Regions from separate parts of the Homo sapiens genome. Here region 2 is linked to region 1. A link means that fine-mapping ties the variant in region 1 to the expression of a gene that starts in the linked region. Tissue or cell type: whole blood. Region 1 holds a variant in brackets; the other region holds the start of a gene. All regions are shown on one strand. Distances are between the middles of the regions.

Evidence for each region. PIP is the estimated chance that this variant, and not a neighbour inherited with it, causes the effect.
Region 2: HSDL2 starts here. The variant in region 1 is fine-mapped to the expression of HSDL2 in whole blood (TOPMed, PIP above 0.99).

The regions. Positions count from the first base shown.
Region 1 is chr9:112,402,589-112,410,789 of GRCh38, forward strand. HSDL2 (hydroxysteroid dehydrogenase like 2) reads left to right here. Exons shown (of 11, transcript NM_032303.5): 2 at 1,407-1,570; 3 at 3,036-3,134; 4 at 6,319-6,433. Among named protein-coding and RNA genes, the nearest start is that of HSDL2, 27 kb to the left of the region's middle. The variant GT/G (reference allele first, on the strand shown) is at 3,828.
Region 2 is chr9:112,375,808-112,383,984 of GRCh38, forward strand. It overlaps HSDL2 (hydroxysteroid dehydrogenase like 2), which reads left to right and starts at 4,301. Exons shown (of 11, transcript NM_032303.5): 1 at 4,301-4,373. The coding sequence starts at 4,357. It also overlaps a transcript of PTBP3 not described here. RefSeq lists enhancers at 3,485-3,534, 3,635-3,884, 3,884-4,483, 3,915-4,034 and a silencer at 4,255-4,504.

The DNA of each region.
Region 1 (8,201 bases):
TGAGTAAGATGGTGAGACCCCATCTCCATTTAAAAAAAGCAAAAAACAGGCTAGCCGGGCGCGGTGGCTCATGCCTGTAATCCCAGCACTTTGGGAGGCCAAGGCGGGTGGATCACGAGGTCAGGAGTTCGAGACCAGCCTGGCCAACATGGTGAAATCACGTCTCTGCTAAAAATACAAAAATTAGCTGGGCGTGGTGGCCCACGCCTGTAGTCCCAGCTACTTGGGAGGCTGAAGCAGGAGAATTGTTTGAGGCTGAAGCAGGAGAATTGCTTGAACCCGGGAGGCAGAGGTTGAGTGAGCTGAGATTGCACCACCGTACTCCAGCCTGGGCGACAGAGCGAGACTGTGTCTCAAAAGAAAAAAAAACACACACACACACACAAAACACACACACACAAAGAATGAAATGGGCACAGGGACCCATCAGTACATTTGAATCAGAATATTTCAGATCAACCTGCAGCAATTTGTGAGCGTTTGTTTATTTAACAGCTCTTTTGAGATGTGATTCACGTACCCCACTATGCAGTCATTTAAAATACGCAATTCATTGGCTTTTAATATATTCACAGAGTTGTGCCACCATCACCACAGTCAATTTTAAAACCTTTAATCATCCTAGAAGGAAACCCCTCAACCCTCCGTTGTCAGCCTCCAATCCCTCCCACTCCCAGCTCTAGGTAACCTCTGATCTTTCTGTCTCTATAGGTTTGCCTATTCTGGACATTTCATATAAATGGCATCATATGTGGTCCTTCATGACTGGTTTCTTCCTCTTAGCAGAATGTTTTTGGTTCATCCATGTTGTAGCTCATAGCAGTACTTTATTGCGGAACATTATTTCATTGTATGCGTGGCTACACCACATTCTGCTTATCCGTTCATCAGCTGATGGACGTTTGAGTTGTTTCCACCTTGGCTATTATGAGCATTCATTGAACAATTATTTGCTTTTAGGTAATTTATTTTAAGTGGTATGTAGTCATTGTGGAAACTTTGAAAAATATTAAAGAATATAAAGGATGTGATAAAATTTGCTCATAATCCCACCACTCAAAAAAAAAAAGCTTTATTAACACGTTTTCTGTGGGGAAAAAAATGCATGTTTATATAATTTGTTTTATAATTCTTTATTTCTCTTGAAGATTTGCTTTGCATTTGAACAGATTTTGTTTGCTAAATCACAGCAAGACTGGCCAACTGCAGTTGTCATAAATAATTTATCAGTCATTGTGCAATGGGAGTATAGTGGAGTTATCTGCCATCAGATGGGCATGGGGAGGGTTTAGAGAAAATTTCACAGAGGAGGAAACATATATTATGAAAATATGCATGAGGTTCTGATACCTGTCAGTAAATAAAACATTGGGTCTTCTAATAAGGTCGTATTTGTTCTGTTGTAGGAGGCTGGCAGGATGTACAGTTTTTATCACAGGTGCAAGCCGTGGCATTGGCAAAGCTATTGCATTGAAAGCAGCAAAGGATGGAGCAAATATTGTTATTGCTGCAAAGACCGCCCAGCCACATCCAAAACTTCTAGGCACAATCTATACTGCTGCTGAAGAAAGTGAGTGTGACAGTGCCATTTGATAAAATGTCTTTCTAGTGGTTTCAATACATAGAGAATTTGCTGGAGAGTTTAGTTAAAGCTATTTGAAAGCTACCCTGAACATAATTTTATCTAGTGAAAGAAGTATTTATGTTGTCACCTTGGGGCAGTGCTTCTGACCGTTTTTCTCCACCAGCACTTTTAAGCAATGTGAGAAACTCCAGTTAAAAATCTTATTTCATGGCGGGGCGTGGTGACTCACACCTGTAATTTCACCCAGCTACTCGGGAGGCTGAGGCAGGAGAATCACTTGAACCTGGGAGGTGGAGGTTGCAGTGAGCCAAGATCATGCCACAGCACTCCAGCTTGGGTGACAGAGCGAGACTCCATCTCTTAAAAAAAAAAAAATCTTGGTTCTTGAGGGCAGTGGTTCTTGGATGGGAGGGGGAGTAGGGAAGTGGAGTAGAGAGGAGAGAATTTGATTGGTGAGTGGCATGAACTCTTTGAGAAAGCGTTCTGTGTTATTTATTCTCTGTACAATTTGCAAGTCATCATTTTAATACTTTTAGTTGACAAATAATTATCACATACTTCTATTTAAGGCATAGCGCTAGGCACAGAGCCAGGAGAGAGGGCTTAAAAATTCAAGTTCAGTTGACATTGCTAGTTTTGTTAATCATGTTCAGAGCACTGTGGTTATGTTAGAGGAATGCATGTGAAGTGTTTATGAGTGAAATGATGTCAGGGATTTGCTTTAAAACACACCAGCAAAAAATAAAACAGGGGACAGGAAAGATAAACATATTAACTGACAAAACTAACAATCGTTGAAGATAGGTGATGGATTCCTGTTAGTTTATTACAGCATCTTTACATTTTTATATAGTTTAGAATATTTCCACAATAAAAAGTTTTTAAAAATTACTTTCAACTGGGTGAGGTGGCTCAAGCCTGTAATCCCAGCACTTTGGGAGGCCAAGGCGGGTGGATCACTTGAGGTCAGGAGTGCGAGACCAGCCTGACCAACATGGCAAAACCGTGTCTCTACAAAAAATAGAAAAATTAGCCTGGCGTGGTGGTGCATGCCTATAGTCCCAGCTACTTGGGAAGCTGAGGTGGGAGGATCCTTTGAGCCTGGGAGATTGAGGCTGCAGTGAGCTGTGTTTGTGCCACTTCACCCAAGCCTGGGCAAGAGAGTGAGACCCTGTCTGAAAAACAAAAACAAACAAACAAAAAACTTCCTTTTTTTAGCTTTTTAAAAAAATTACAAAGAAACCCCCACCAAACCTTCGTTTTTGTTTTTTAATAGTGTTAGCCTAGCTAGTCTGTCCTGCTATATGGTAGAGTCACTGGTGGTAAGATAGAGTTATTTATATTGATTTTCTGAAAACAGGGTACTTTTTTCTTTTGACTGTGATATTGGAATTAAAGGTATAATATTTAAATGCTTTAACGCTTTTTCATTTTGTATCCTTTATATAAGTTGAAGCAGTTGGAGGAAAGGCCTTGCCATGTATTGTTGATGTGAGAGATGAACAGCAGATCAGTGCTGCAGTGGAGAAAGCCATCAAGAAATTTGGAGGTAATACCTTCATTCTGAAAAAATTATTGGATATTGGTAAAATAAAGGTATAACTATAATGTTAATTTAAAAATTTGTTTTGAGTTTTGAATTTTCTGAGTCTTTGGAGAAATACGTATTTGCTCACACAGAACATGATTTAAAACCATCTGATAAGGCTGGGCGTGGTGGCTCACACCTGTAATCCCAGCACTTTGGGAGGCCGAGGCAGGCAGATCACTTGAGGTCAGGAGTTTAAGACCAGCCTGGCCAACATGGTGAAACCCCGTCTCTACTAAAAATACAAAAATTAGCTGAACATGGTGGTGGATGCCTGTAATCCCAGCTACTCAGGAGGCTGAGGTGGAAGAATTGCTTGAACCTGGGAGGTGGAGGTTGCAGTGAGCTGAGATTGCACCACTGCATTCCAGCCTGGGTGACAGAGCAAGACTCTGTCTCAAAAAGAAAAAAAAAAAAAAGAAAAAGAGTGTGGAATGATAGACTGTGGAGACTGGGAAGAAAGAAGGGATGCAAGGGGGGTAGATGAAGAGAAATTACTTAATCGGTACAATGTTTGCTGTTTGGGTGATGGATACCCTAAAAGTCCTGGACACTGCACAATCTATGTATGTGAGAAAATTGCACTTGTGCCTTATATATTTGTTTTTGAAAAAATTCTTCCTTTATGTGGTTAAATTTCATCTTCTTCACAAA[GT/G]CAGTTCCCTCACCATGCCAACTAATCAGAATTATATTTTTCTTTCTCTGATTTCTTTTTTCTTTTTTTTTGAGACTGAGTCTTGCTCTTGTCACCCAGGCTGGAGTGCAGTGGCGCAATCTCGGCTCACTGCAACCTCTGCCTCCTGGGTTCAAGCGATTCTCCTGCCTCAGCCTCCCGAGTAGCTGGGATTACAGGCGCCTGCCACCATGCCCAGCTAATTTTTGTATATTTAGTAGAGACAGGTTTCGCCACATTGGCCAGGCTGGTCTCGAACTCCTGACTTCATGATCCACCCAACTCAGCCTCCCAAAGTGCTGGGATTACAGGCGTGAGCCACCGTGCCCGGCCTCTCTGATTTCTTAAAACATTCATTTGATCCTTATCTTGTACTATTTTAGATCTTAGTATTTCTTTTCTCCCCAATTAGTTCAAAAGTTCCTAGAAAAAAGGTGTTGGGGATTGAGCTAAGGCTTTCATGGTATTATAGTAGGGCACCTAGGCATGTCCAAATCCTGCCTAAACCATTACCACTCTCCCCGCTAATGTTCTGGAGGACCATATGTACATGTGAGGGACAATGGCCAGTGGAAAATGAGGGAATGCTTCAGTGTTAGCAAGGCTGTACTTATAATCCCAATGCAGAGTGCTGTGGGGTGCTGGACTGAAGCACGGAGCTTTGGCTCAAGTGGAGCCTCTTCCCTTAAATCCAAAATCTTACCCCTAGCCGGCAGCCTTTCCCAAAGAAATGTGAATGCCTGTGTCAGAAGAGGAGAGAAAATGCAAAATGATGTTTGTCCAACTGATAGGGCGCTAAATGTGAAATGTGCCACGCTCAAATGCAGGATATTTTATCTAAAATGACTTCACCTAGTAGTAAAAGTGGTTAACTAGTGCCACTTAGGATTTGATGTAATTAGTTTATCCACTAATTTTTGGAGAGGACGTAAGGGGAGAAAGCTGAAGCTTTTCATTCTCCCATATTCATTCAGTTTTAGTTCTTTTTTTTTTCTTCTTTGAAACAGGGTCTCACTCTGTCACCCAGACTGGTATGTAGTGGCATGATCGTGGCTCACCACAGCTTTGGCCTCCTGGGCTCAGGTGATCCTCCAACCCCAGCCTCCCAAGAAGCTGGGACTATAGGTGCCCACCACCAGGCCTAGCTAATTTTTGTGTTTTTAGTAGAGATGGGGTTTCACCATGTTGGCCAGGCTGGTCTCAAACTCCTGACCTCAAGGGATCCACCCACCTCAACTTCTCAAAGTGCTGGGGTTACAAGCATGAGCCACTGTCCCCAGCCTTGAATTTATTATTTAATTTTTTAAAATTGTGGTAAAATACACATAACATAAAATTTACCATCCTATTTTTAAGTGTACAGTTCAGTGACATTGAAGTTTATTATATTGTTACACAACCATCATTAAGTACACTTCACAAAGAATAATGAAGACCAGGTAGAAACAAAGAAAAAATGTTTGACATAGTTTTTGTATTTTTACCATTTTCCTTTAATGTTATTTCACTAAGCATATAACTATAAGCAAAACTTGTTGGTTATAGGTAGAAACTAGATAGAATTTGCAGAAATAGTAGTTACTCTAGGTTTATTTTTTGTGTGTGTGTATGAGTCACTAAAACAAAATTGATCCACTTTGATGATCTGCCTGGGATTGAAACAGTAGGTCTTTCTCTTTTCCCAGTTCTCAAGACCAGAAAGGAGCCTTTCCCTTTAAGTGAGGGGCCTTGGGGGAAGGGAGACTACTATGCTTGGAGGGAGGACAGGCCTTTGAAACTTCATGCTAGAGAGGAAGAAAGACTTTAAGGAATTTGATCCAAGGTTTATGGAGACAGGGAGGGACAACCAGGAGGTAAGAGAACAGTTAAGAGTGGAAGCTACAAACCACCGAAGACTAAGCCTCCTTGTAGTTTCACATGGAGCTCTGGCAATTGGCTATATCTCCACTGTGCTAGTGACAATCATGCAGGTGCTATTTTGAAATAGCTACCAGTCTTGCATTGGTAGTGGTTAGTCATATTATCTAAAGGAAGTATAGCCATGCATTGCTTAATGATGGGGATATGTTCTGAGAAAGGCATTATTAGGTGATTTTATGATCGTATGAACATAGAGTATACTTACACAAACATAGATAGTCTAGCTGACCACATACCTAGGCTGTATGGCATAGCCTATTGCTTCCAGGCTGTAAAGCTGTATAACATGTTACTGTACTGACTACTGTAGGCGTTTGTAACACAACAGTAAGTATGTATCTGAACAAACTTAGACAGAAAAGAGATAAAATAAAAAAACAGTATTGTAATCTTAAGGGACCATGTTGCGTATATGGGCCATTGTTGATTGAAATGTTAGGTGTGGTACATGACTGTATTTGTGAATCAACTGAGGGTTCAAGAGAGTAAACGCTTTTTTTGTGTGTGATAAAAAGTCTTTCATTAAAATGAAATTGATTATTTTGAAAACAGGAATTGATATTCTGGTAAATAATGCCAGTGCCATTAGTTTGACCAATACATTGGACACACCTACCAAGAGATTGGATCTGATGATGAACGTGAACACCAGAGGCACCTACCTTGCGTAAGTTTGCAAGAAGAGTTGTTGGGGAGGAAGTTGCGGTGTTTCTCAGGGAACTTACATAGTTGTAAACAGATTTGAGCCAAATTAACAGTGTAGTTCAAAATCTAGTCAATCCTTATAAGGGTCTAAAAGTCCTTCATTCAGTCAATAGTATTTTATTTTATTTTTTATTTATTTATTTTTTTGAGATGGAGTTTCATTCTTGTTGCCCAGGCTGGAGTGCAGTGGCACGATCTCAGCTCACTGCAACCTTTGCCTCCTAGGTTCAAGCGATTCTCCTGCCTCAGCCTCCTGAGTAGCTGGGATTACAGGCGCCCACCACCATGCCCAGTTGATTTTTTGTATTTTTAGTAGAGACAGGGTTTTACCATGTTGGCCAGGCTGGTCTCAAACTCCTTACCTCAGGTGATCCACCCACCTTGGCCTCCCAAAGTGCTGGGATTACAGGCATGAGCCACCATGCCCAGCCCGATAGTATTTTAAATAGCTTTATTTGGAGCTCCTTTTCTCTATGAATTTAGGAAAGACTAAAGTAGGCTGAGTGCAGTGGCTCACACCTGTAATTTCAGCACTTTGGGTGAGGGGAGTATTATTGGAGGCCAGGAGATTGAGACTGAGATGCACAAGATGGCAAGACGCTGTCTCTACAAAAAAAAGTTTTTAAAATCAGGCAGGCATAGTGGTTTGTGTGCTACTGAGACTGTGGTGGTGGTCTCATCTACTCAGGAGACTGAGGCAAGAGGATCCCTTGAGCCCAGGAGTTTGAGGCTACAATGAGCTGTGATCATGCCACTGCACTCCAGCCTGGGTAACAGAGAAAGACTGTCTCCAAAGAAAAAAAAAAAAGACTAAAGTGTAGCTCAAGCATTTTCTCAAATATTTGCATGTGTAAATACTTACATGTATACTCTGTCTTTCATAGGACACAGTCCTTTCATAGGACTATTTAGGATTACTGAAGCCAGCAATAGTCTCCTTCCTCTGAAAAAGACCTGGCGTTAAAAAAAAAAAAAGACGTAGGTTTTAGTTATTTAAATAACAGTAAGGTCATTCTCATTATGAATCACACTTTATTGTAACCAATAAAAACACTAATACTTTCTTGGGCTTTGCCGGGGAAATGTAGACTATCGAATGAAAGAACATAGTCTTGATCTGTTCTGGATTCATCAGACAACCTGTCTTATTGTCCATTTATTTATCTGTTTATTTACCCTCTGGTTCTATATTTTCCATGTGGATATCAGGATACATCAGGTTAGAACTTGCTTCTGTACCTTACATGTATCTTGTTAACACACAGAATAGGTGGTTAGGAGCTTAGGCTCTGGAGTAAGACTGCTTGGATTCAAATCTTAACACTCACCCCTCATGACTTTCTATTTTGTGACCTTGGACAAGTAACTTAACTTCTTGCAGATTCAGTTTCTTTACTTTTAAAATGGCAATAATACAGTAATATGTTATAGGGTTGGTCACGAGGGTTAAATGTCTAAGTTATTAAGTTAGAGTCCTGAATTTTTCCCTCAGGTATGTTTTGTTGGGTCTGCAAAACTTGGCCCAGACAGTGTTAAAACAAAATTGTTTTCATTAGTTACCTACATTCAAAGTTTTATTAGTTAGGGCCAGGCATGGCGGCTCATGCTTGTAATCCCAGCACTTTGGGAGGCTGAGCCAGGCGGGTCACTTGAGCCCAGGAGTTCGAAACCAGCCTAGACAACATGGCAAAACCCTGTCTCTACAAAAAATAGAAAAATTAGCTGGGGAT
Region 2 (8,177 bases), 27 kb before region 1:
GTCACATGGTGACTTAATGACCCATAGTCAAACGTTCAGTTTCCACCAAAGCCCAGTAACAGGCTAAGAGCTGTCTCTCAAAAGGAGAGTAGTTATCTGCAGAAGAAGGCAGGGTCTTGCTCCAAAATCCTAGAGGCCTCCACTGTGATTCATTTATGGTGGCCTGGCAAAGGCTCCAAATAGCATCCCTATCTGCCACTCATCCCTCAAGCACTATTGGATCTGCTGGGTCATATGGCCCAAGTGGCAGAACAGCTTGCACAGCAGCCTGGACCTGTTGCAGAGCCTTCTCCTGTTCTGGACCCTACTTCTGGTACCAAAATCCGTATTAGTCAGGGTTCTCTAGAGGATATATATATATATATATATATCCTATTACTTCCTTATATACGTGTGTGTGTGTGTGTGTGTGTGTGTGTGTGTGTGTGTAGGGGAGTTTATTAAGTTTTTTTTTTTTTTTTTTTTGAGAAAGAGTCTCGGTCTGTCACCAGGCTGGAGTGCAGTGGCGTGGTCTCCGCTCACTGCAACCTCCGCCTCCCAGGTTCAAGCGATTCTCCTGCCTTAGCCTCCCGAGTAGCTGGGACTACAGGTGTGTGCTACCACGCCCAGCTACTTTTTGTATTTTTAGTAGAGATGGGGTTTCACCACGTTGGCCAGGATGGTCTCCATCTCTTGACCTTGTGATCCGCCTGCCTCGGCCTCCCAAAGTGCTGGGATTACAGGCATAAGCCACCGCGCCCAGCCTATTAAGTATTAACTCACATGATCACAAGGTCCCATAATAGGCCATCTGCAAGCTGAGGTGCAAGGAGAGCCAGTCCAAGTCCCGAAACTGAACCTGGAGTCTGATGTTGGAGGGCAAGAAGGGGATAAACGCACAGGAGAAGGATGTAGGCTGGGAGGCTAGGCCAGTCTCATCTTTTCAGGTTTTTCTGCCTGTCTTATATTCACTGGCAGCTGATTAGATGGTACCCACTCAGATTAAGGGTGGGTCTGCCCTTCCCAGCCCACTGACTCAAATGTTAATGTCCTTTGGCAATACCCTCACAGATACACCCAAGACCAATACTTTGCATCCTTCAATACCATCAAGTTGACACTCAGTATTAACCATCACAAGCCCTATGAAATAAAAAGTTTTATGACCCCTTTCTTCCCAGAATTATGAATGCCAATTTACTTGCTCTACATTTACGCAACTTCCATGACCTGGGGTAGGTAGGTATGCAATGTTGTGTTACTTCCCCATTGTCCATATCCACTTGTGTCCCTGGCCATGGCCAACTAATTTACAGGTTGAAACATTTCCCAGCACCTTGGAAGGCTGTGTGGTGGGAGGATTGCTTGAGGTGAGGAGTTCAAGACCAACCTGGGCAACATAGTGAGACCCCTGTGTCTATAAAAAGTAAAATTAGCCAGGTGTGGTGGCACATGCCCGTGGTCCTGGCTACTTGGGTGGCTGAGCCCAGGAGGTTGAGGCTACAGTGAGCCATGATCATGCTGCTACACTCCAGCCTGGGTGACAGAGCAAGATCTTATCTCAAAAAAACAAAACAAAACGAAACACATTGTACTAGACTGTCTTAGTATTTGAAGCTTGAACAGATACACAGAAAAGACAGGGAAGCCACCTACAATGCATTCTAGAAAGATCATGCTGCTGAGGATCATGGAAGCACCTTAGTTCCCATTGTCAAGCTTAGTTGTTCAGCTCTTCCTTAAGTTATATAAACTATCCCAGAATTCTTCTAAATTCTCCAACCCCTTTAATTTGGTTTAAATTAGCCAAATTACATTAATGTTGCATATAACCAAAACTTAAGGGATATAAATTGGTTGGGAGAATGTGTTGTAACCAGTAGTCTGTCAGGAAACTGTTGCATTTTTAGGTAGTTTTATCAAGCTGAGAAGGGGTGAAATGAGTGAGACTTACCTGACTTTCAAGACATCTATTTTTCAAACCATTTGTTTTCACTTCTTTACTGTGTTATCACCATCCTCCCAGGACTTTACACCAGAAATCTGAAGGTCACCACTGATACCATCTTCCCCCTTTGCTCCTACATCTAATCATTAGTTACATCTGCCAGGTTCCATATCTTGAGTATGTCTTTTCATTTCTACTATTACTGCCTTAGTTCAGGTTACTACTTTTCTTACACATTACATTACTATGGGCTTTTAAATGGCTTCTGTGCCTTTATCTACTCACAAACTATTCTTCATGCTGCAGTCAGAAGTGTTCTAAGCCAAAATTATTCACCTTCCAAAATGAAGATCTAATTATGTTCACAAGTCCTCTCCTTCACCCATTCCTCACCTCTAGCATTAATCTAACACTAGGTTAATCAAGGTAATGGGGTAGAAGGTCATGGGTAACTCCAAATCACACTTTAAATGAACTCTAGTCAAAGTACTGAATACAATGGATTTAAACTTGCTTGGTAAAACTACCTCTAATAATTTAGGAATATATTTGCCTTCTGTGAAAGCCATCGCAAAGTATAAAAATAGTGTAAGTACAGGTATTTAGGCTCACAAAATATCGTTATGACTGAAAAATTGGCAAAGGTTTTTTGTTTGCTTTGCCTCTTCGTTGAGCTCTCTTTCCGTAACAAATGGAAATAGAAGCACACAAATTCAAGAAAGGAGGCTCTAACAGACTGAAGATATTGTGGCTTTCAAAAAGGAGAGAACATTTTAGATGATATGAAGGAAATGTCACCCCGTTACTAAGAATTCACTCTATTCGACAGATATATACACGCTTCAGCAAGTGCTCCTAAGGATGAGAGGAGAGTAAGTTATTTTCATCTAACAGTCTCTATCAACACTCTTCTTAAAACACCTAATGCTTAACAACAGTCTAAAGAACACACTGGCTACTCATACCTCCCATAGGCAGAGACCTTGTCCTTTTTGAGCTGCTGTATCTCAGGTAATCAGCAATCACTTAGTGGATGATAATAATTTGCAAATTCCTCTGGAGCCTCTAAAGACCGTATCATGAATCATCAATTCAAATGCCTACAGGAGTCGGGCAGGTGATATGCAGGAGGAAATAGAGTCATTTAGGGCCCATAACAAAGGGGAGAGAGGCCGGGCGCGGAGGCTCACGCCTGTAATCCCAGCACTTTGGAAGGCCGAGGCGGGCCAATCATTTGAGGTCAGGAGCTCGAGACCAGCCAGCCCAACATGGCGAAACCCCGTCTCTACTAAAAACACAAAAAAATTAGCCAGGCGTGGTGATGCATGCCTGTAGTCCCAGCTACTCCGGAGGCTGAGGGAGGAGAATCACTTGAACCCGGGAGGCGGAGGTTACAATGAGCCGAGATCCGCGCCACTGCACTTCAGCGTGGGCGACAGCGAGACTCCGTCTCAAAAAACAAAACAAAAACAAAGGAGAGAGTACATAAGCCATCTCCAGGCTAGTTTCTTTAACTAGTCTTCATATAATAATCTCCTCAAGGTCCTGTTCTATCCCTACAAAATACAAAACAGTTCCTCGTGTCTTCCTTCAAATATACTACAGTCTTTAGCTCATCAGAGTAGCTGAGTTAGTCCAAGGCATAATCCCAAAAGCGAAACTGAATGTCAGAATTGATCTCATTTCAACACTCATTCCAGAAGTAGAAACTTCTGCAAGTTCAGCTTTTGACTATGAATTCTTCAGCGCGACTTTTGCAGAGAGCTCTGTTCCAAGAAGCTGGCGCCTTAACACAAGCTATCTACCGATGCACAAGGGAAGGCTGGCTTGGGTCCAGATTCGGCGGGAGAGTGGAAACGCGACGCTGGCCGACTTCAGCCACAAAGGCAATTTCTGCCCAGGGCTAGCGTTCCTAAGAGGGGGCCGAGAGAACGCCAGGCTCGGGCGTAGGGGCAAGAAGACCCAGAGCTAACGCACCTCTCGGAGGGCCCAAGCTCAGGGCTCAGTCACCCTCCCAGCTCGGAGCCGGCGCTGGAACACAGCGGCGCGAGGAGAAACCCCTAGAGACAGGGAAAAGGTGGACGTAGCGGCTGACGCTGCCCAGACGCTAGGCGCCGACAGGAGCCTGATTGTCACCGTACGACCAGTGAGGGGGCGGGGCGGAGCTGTGCCTCAAAGCGCCTGCGCGGAGAGCCTGCAATCAGGGACCAGGCTTGGGAGGCGACGAAGAGGAACGCTGGGCGCAGGAGGCCCACTGCATACGCAGGCGCACTCGGCGATCCCGGCTTTTCCGCGCGCAGTTCCCGCACAGGCATCGGGGGGGGCAGGGGCGGGGCAGGGGCGGGGATAAATGCGGAGGGACGGTCCAGCTTTAGCTCTCTGCTCGCCGCCGCCGCTGTCGCCGCCACCTCCTCTGATCTACGAAAGTCATGTTACCCAACACCGGGTAAGGGGGTAGGGGCGGCGCGGGGAGAGACCCTGTCGGGCGAAGGGCGCGTCTCGGTGGGGCCGCCGCGGATCGCCCGGGCTGGCCGGCCCGGCTGTGGGAGGTCAAGGATACTGCCTGGGCACGCTCTGAGCTCTGGTCCGCGCTGGGCACTGTGCACCGAGAATCTGCGGTAACGTGTGAAAAGGAACACAAACTTTTGTATTACAGGATGGCAGCAGTGTAGAAACCTTTTCCACGGGTAAAGGGCCGAGGGGGAGTCACCACGCCGCCCCCAGTGCCGGCCCTCCCTGAGTTTAGCAGGAGTGCGTGCCTGGCCGAATGCGTGTGAGTTCTAGGTGAAAGGTCGCAGGAGCAGCTCCAGAGTTTAAAGAGTTTTCACTTGTTCCTGACGCTCAATTCTAGAGTAATAATGGAGTGTTTAAAAAATGATTTCCAAATTAGAAACTAAACCGATCTTAAAACATGGGTATCTTTGGGGGATTTTTTTTTCACCTTAAAAAATTGTGTTAAAATACGTACAAAATCTGCCATCTTAACCGTTTTTTAAGTGTACACTTCAGTAGTGTTAAGTAGATTCATATCGTTGTGCAGTCAATCTCCAGAACTTTTTTCATCTGCAAGCTGAAACTCTATCCATGAAACAACTCCTCTTCCCCACCTCCGCTCGTACATTGGCAACCACCATTCTACTTTCTGGTTTATGTAAGGTCTGGGTATCTTGAGTTGAGTGACGTGTTGTCAGATTTTGTAATTTGCCTGAAACATGCAGGCATATAGCCAAAGACTTAAAACAGTTCAAAGAGTATAGGGTAAAAAGTGAGTCTCCCCATCCCTAAAATCTAGTTCCCCAGTTACTTACGTTTCTATTTCGTGCATGTATGAACATAATTTGTATACATCCGGATACACACACACACACACACACACACACACATACCCTTTCTTAAAAATAGCAGCAGACTCTATTCTTGGTCTTGCTACTTTTAGTTGGTATGTCTTGGGACATTCTTTCTTTGTTTTTTTTAAAGACGGGGTCTCCCATGTTGCCCAGACTGGCCTGTAGCCTTGAACTCCCAGGCTGATGTTCCTCCCTTCTTAGCCTCTGGAGTATTTAGGATTACAGGCATGCACCGCTGTGCCCAGGGACATACATTTTTAGTACATGGCAGATCTTCCGCCTCCTTTTTTTTTCTTTTGAGATGGAGTCTCGCTCTGTCTTCCAGTCTGGAGTGCAGTGGCATGATCTCGGCTCACTGCAGCCTCCGCCTCCCGCAATTCTCCTGCCTCAGCCTCCCGAGTAGCTGGGACTTCAGGCGCGTGCCACCACGCCCTGTTGATTTTTTTGTATTTTTAGTACAGACGGGGTTTCACCATGTTAGCCAGGATGGTCTCAATCTCATGACCTCGTGATCCGTCTGCCTCGGCCTCCCAAAGTGCTGGGATTACAGGCGTAAGCCACTGCGCCTGGCCCCTCCTCCTTTTTAATGGTTGCATAATATTCTGTAACAGCTTGAGTATCCATTATCCAAAATGCTTGGTTCCAGACGTGTTCGGATTTCAGATTTTCAGATTTGGTTTGCTCAACCTGTATATGAATATACCTTTGTTTATTTAACCTGTTCCCTATTGTTGGATACTAGACTGTTTCCAGTTTTTTGGATACTCTTTTTTTGCTTCCATAATTATACTTGTATTTATCTATTTGCACATATATAAGTGTATATGTAGGATAAACTCCTGGAAGTGAAATTGCTGGATCAAAGAGTAAATGTGGCTGGGCACAGTGGCTCACGCCTGTAGTCCCAGCACTTTGGGAGGCCGAGGCGGGCGGATCACTGGAGGTCAAGAGTTCGAGACCAGCCTGGCCAACGTGGTGAAACTCCGTCTCCACTAAAACTACAAAATTACAAAAATTACAAATACAAAAATTAGCTGGACCTGGTAGCGGGCACCTGTAATCCCAGCTACTCAGGAGGCTGAGGCAGGAGAACCGCTTGAACCTGGAGGCGGAGGTGGCAGTGAGCCGAGATCATGCCACTGCCCTGCCCTCCACCCTGCGAGAGAGAGTGAGAGTCTGTCTCAAAAAGAAAAAAGAGGAAATGCACTTTATATTTTGACAGATATTTCCAGATGACCCCCCAGAAGGGTTGCACACCCAAAAGGATAAATGAGATCCTCTAATCCCACTTGTTGGCTAACCGCAAAATAGTTAATGATGAAAATCTAATTAGAGAAAAAAGTGTCACCTCATTATTGTTAAAATTTGCATTTATTTTATCACAAGTGTGGATTTGGATCTCTTTGTGTATTTAAACCAGGGACAATTTGATCCCCAGAGGACATTTGGTAATATCTCAAGACATTTTTGATAGTCACAATTGAATGGAGATGCTAATGGCATCTCGTGAGTAGAGTACAGGGATGCTGGTGCACATCCTACAATTCACAAGCATTCCGTACAACAAAGAATTATGTAGTCCAAAAGGTCAGTAGTGCAGAGGTTGAGAAACCCTGGTTTAAAGCCATCTATGTATCTTTATATTTGTCTGGCTTAACAAATGAGGTTTTTCGTTAATCTCTGAGGGCTCTGTGTATTTTAAAAATTTGTCTTTTATCACATTACAAATATTTTCCACAGTTTTTCATGTTGCATCTGGACTTTGATTATACTGTTTATTTAACATGGAGAAACATGTTTTTGTGAAGCCAGAGTTATCAGTCTCTTAAGGCTTTTGCATTTTTGAGTTAAACCAAGATCTTTTTTTTTTTTTTTGAGATGGAGTCTTGCTCTGTAAGCCTTTGAGTTAAACCGAGATCTTTCTTTCTGTCTTTCTTTTTTTTGAGATGGAATCTTGCTCTGTATGCCTTTGAGTTAAACCGAGATCTTTCTTTCTGTCTTTCTTTTTTTGAGATGGAATCTTGCTCTGTTGCCCAGGCTTGAGTGCAGTGGTGCGATCTCGTTTCACTGCAACCTCTGCCTCCCAGGTTTAAGTGGTTCTCCTGCCTTAGCCTCACAAGTAGCTGGGATTACAGGCGCACACCACCATGCCGGCTAATTTTTGTAATTTTAGTAGAGATGGAGTTTCACCATGTTGGCCAGGCTGGTCTCAAACTCCTGACCTCAAGTAATCCTCCTGACTCGGCATCCCAACATGCTGGGATTACAGGTGTGAGCCACCGTGCCTGGGCAGATCTTTTTATAATTAGTTTTCTTCTGATATTTTTATGGTCTTATATTTTTGTATTTTTCAAATATATTTGTATTGTCTATATTTTTTATAGTCAGATTTTTTTATCCCCCTGAGATTTCTTTCAGGAAGTGAGTTAGGAAGCCCACTTGATTTTTCTTCAGATGGCTGCTCATTTGTCCTAGCAGCATTGACCTAAGAGTTAATCTTTTCTCTTCTGCTCGAAATTCTACCTCTGTTGTATATTAAATTCTTGCACATATAGCGCTCTGTTTCTGGACTTTCTGCTCTGCTACTTTAGTCTCTATTCATGTACCAGTACCAGACTGTTTACTTAATTAATTAATTGAGACAGGGCCTCGCTCTGTCACCCAGGCTGGGGTGCATTGGCACCATCATAGTTCACTGCAGCCTTGATCTCCTGGGGTTAAGCAGTCCTCCCAGCTCATCTTCCCAATTAGGTGGGACTATAGACATGCGCCATAATGCCTGGCTATTTTTAAAAAATTTTTTTGTAGAGGAGTCTCACTTTGTTGCCCAGGCTGGTCTCAAACTCCTGGGCTCAAGTGATCCTCCTGCCTCAGCCCCCGAAGTGCTAGGATTACAGATGTGA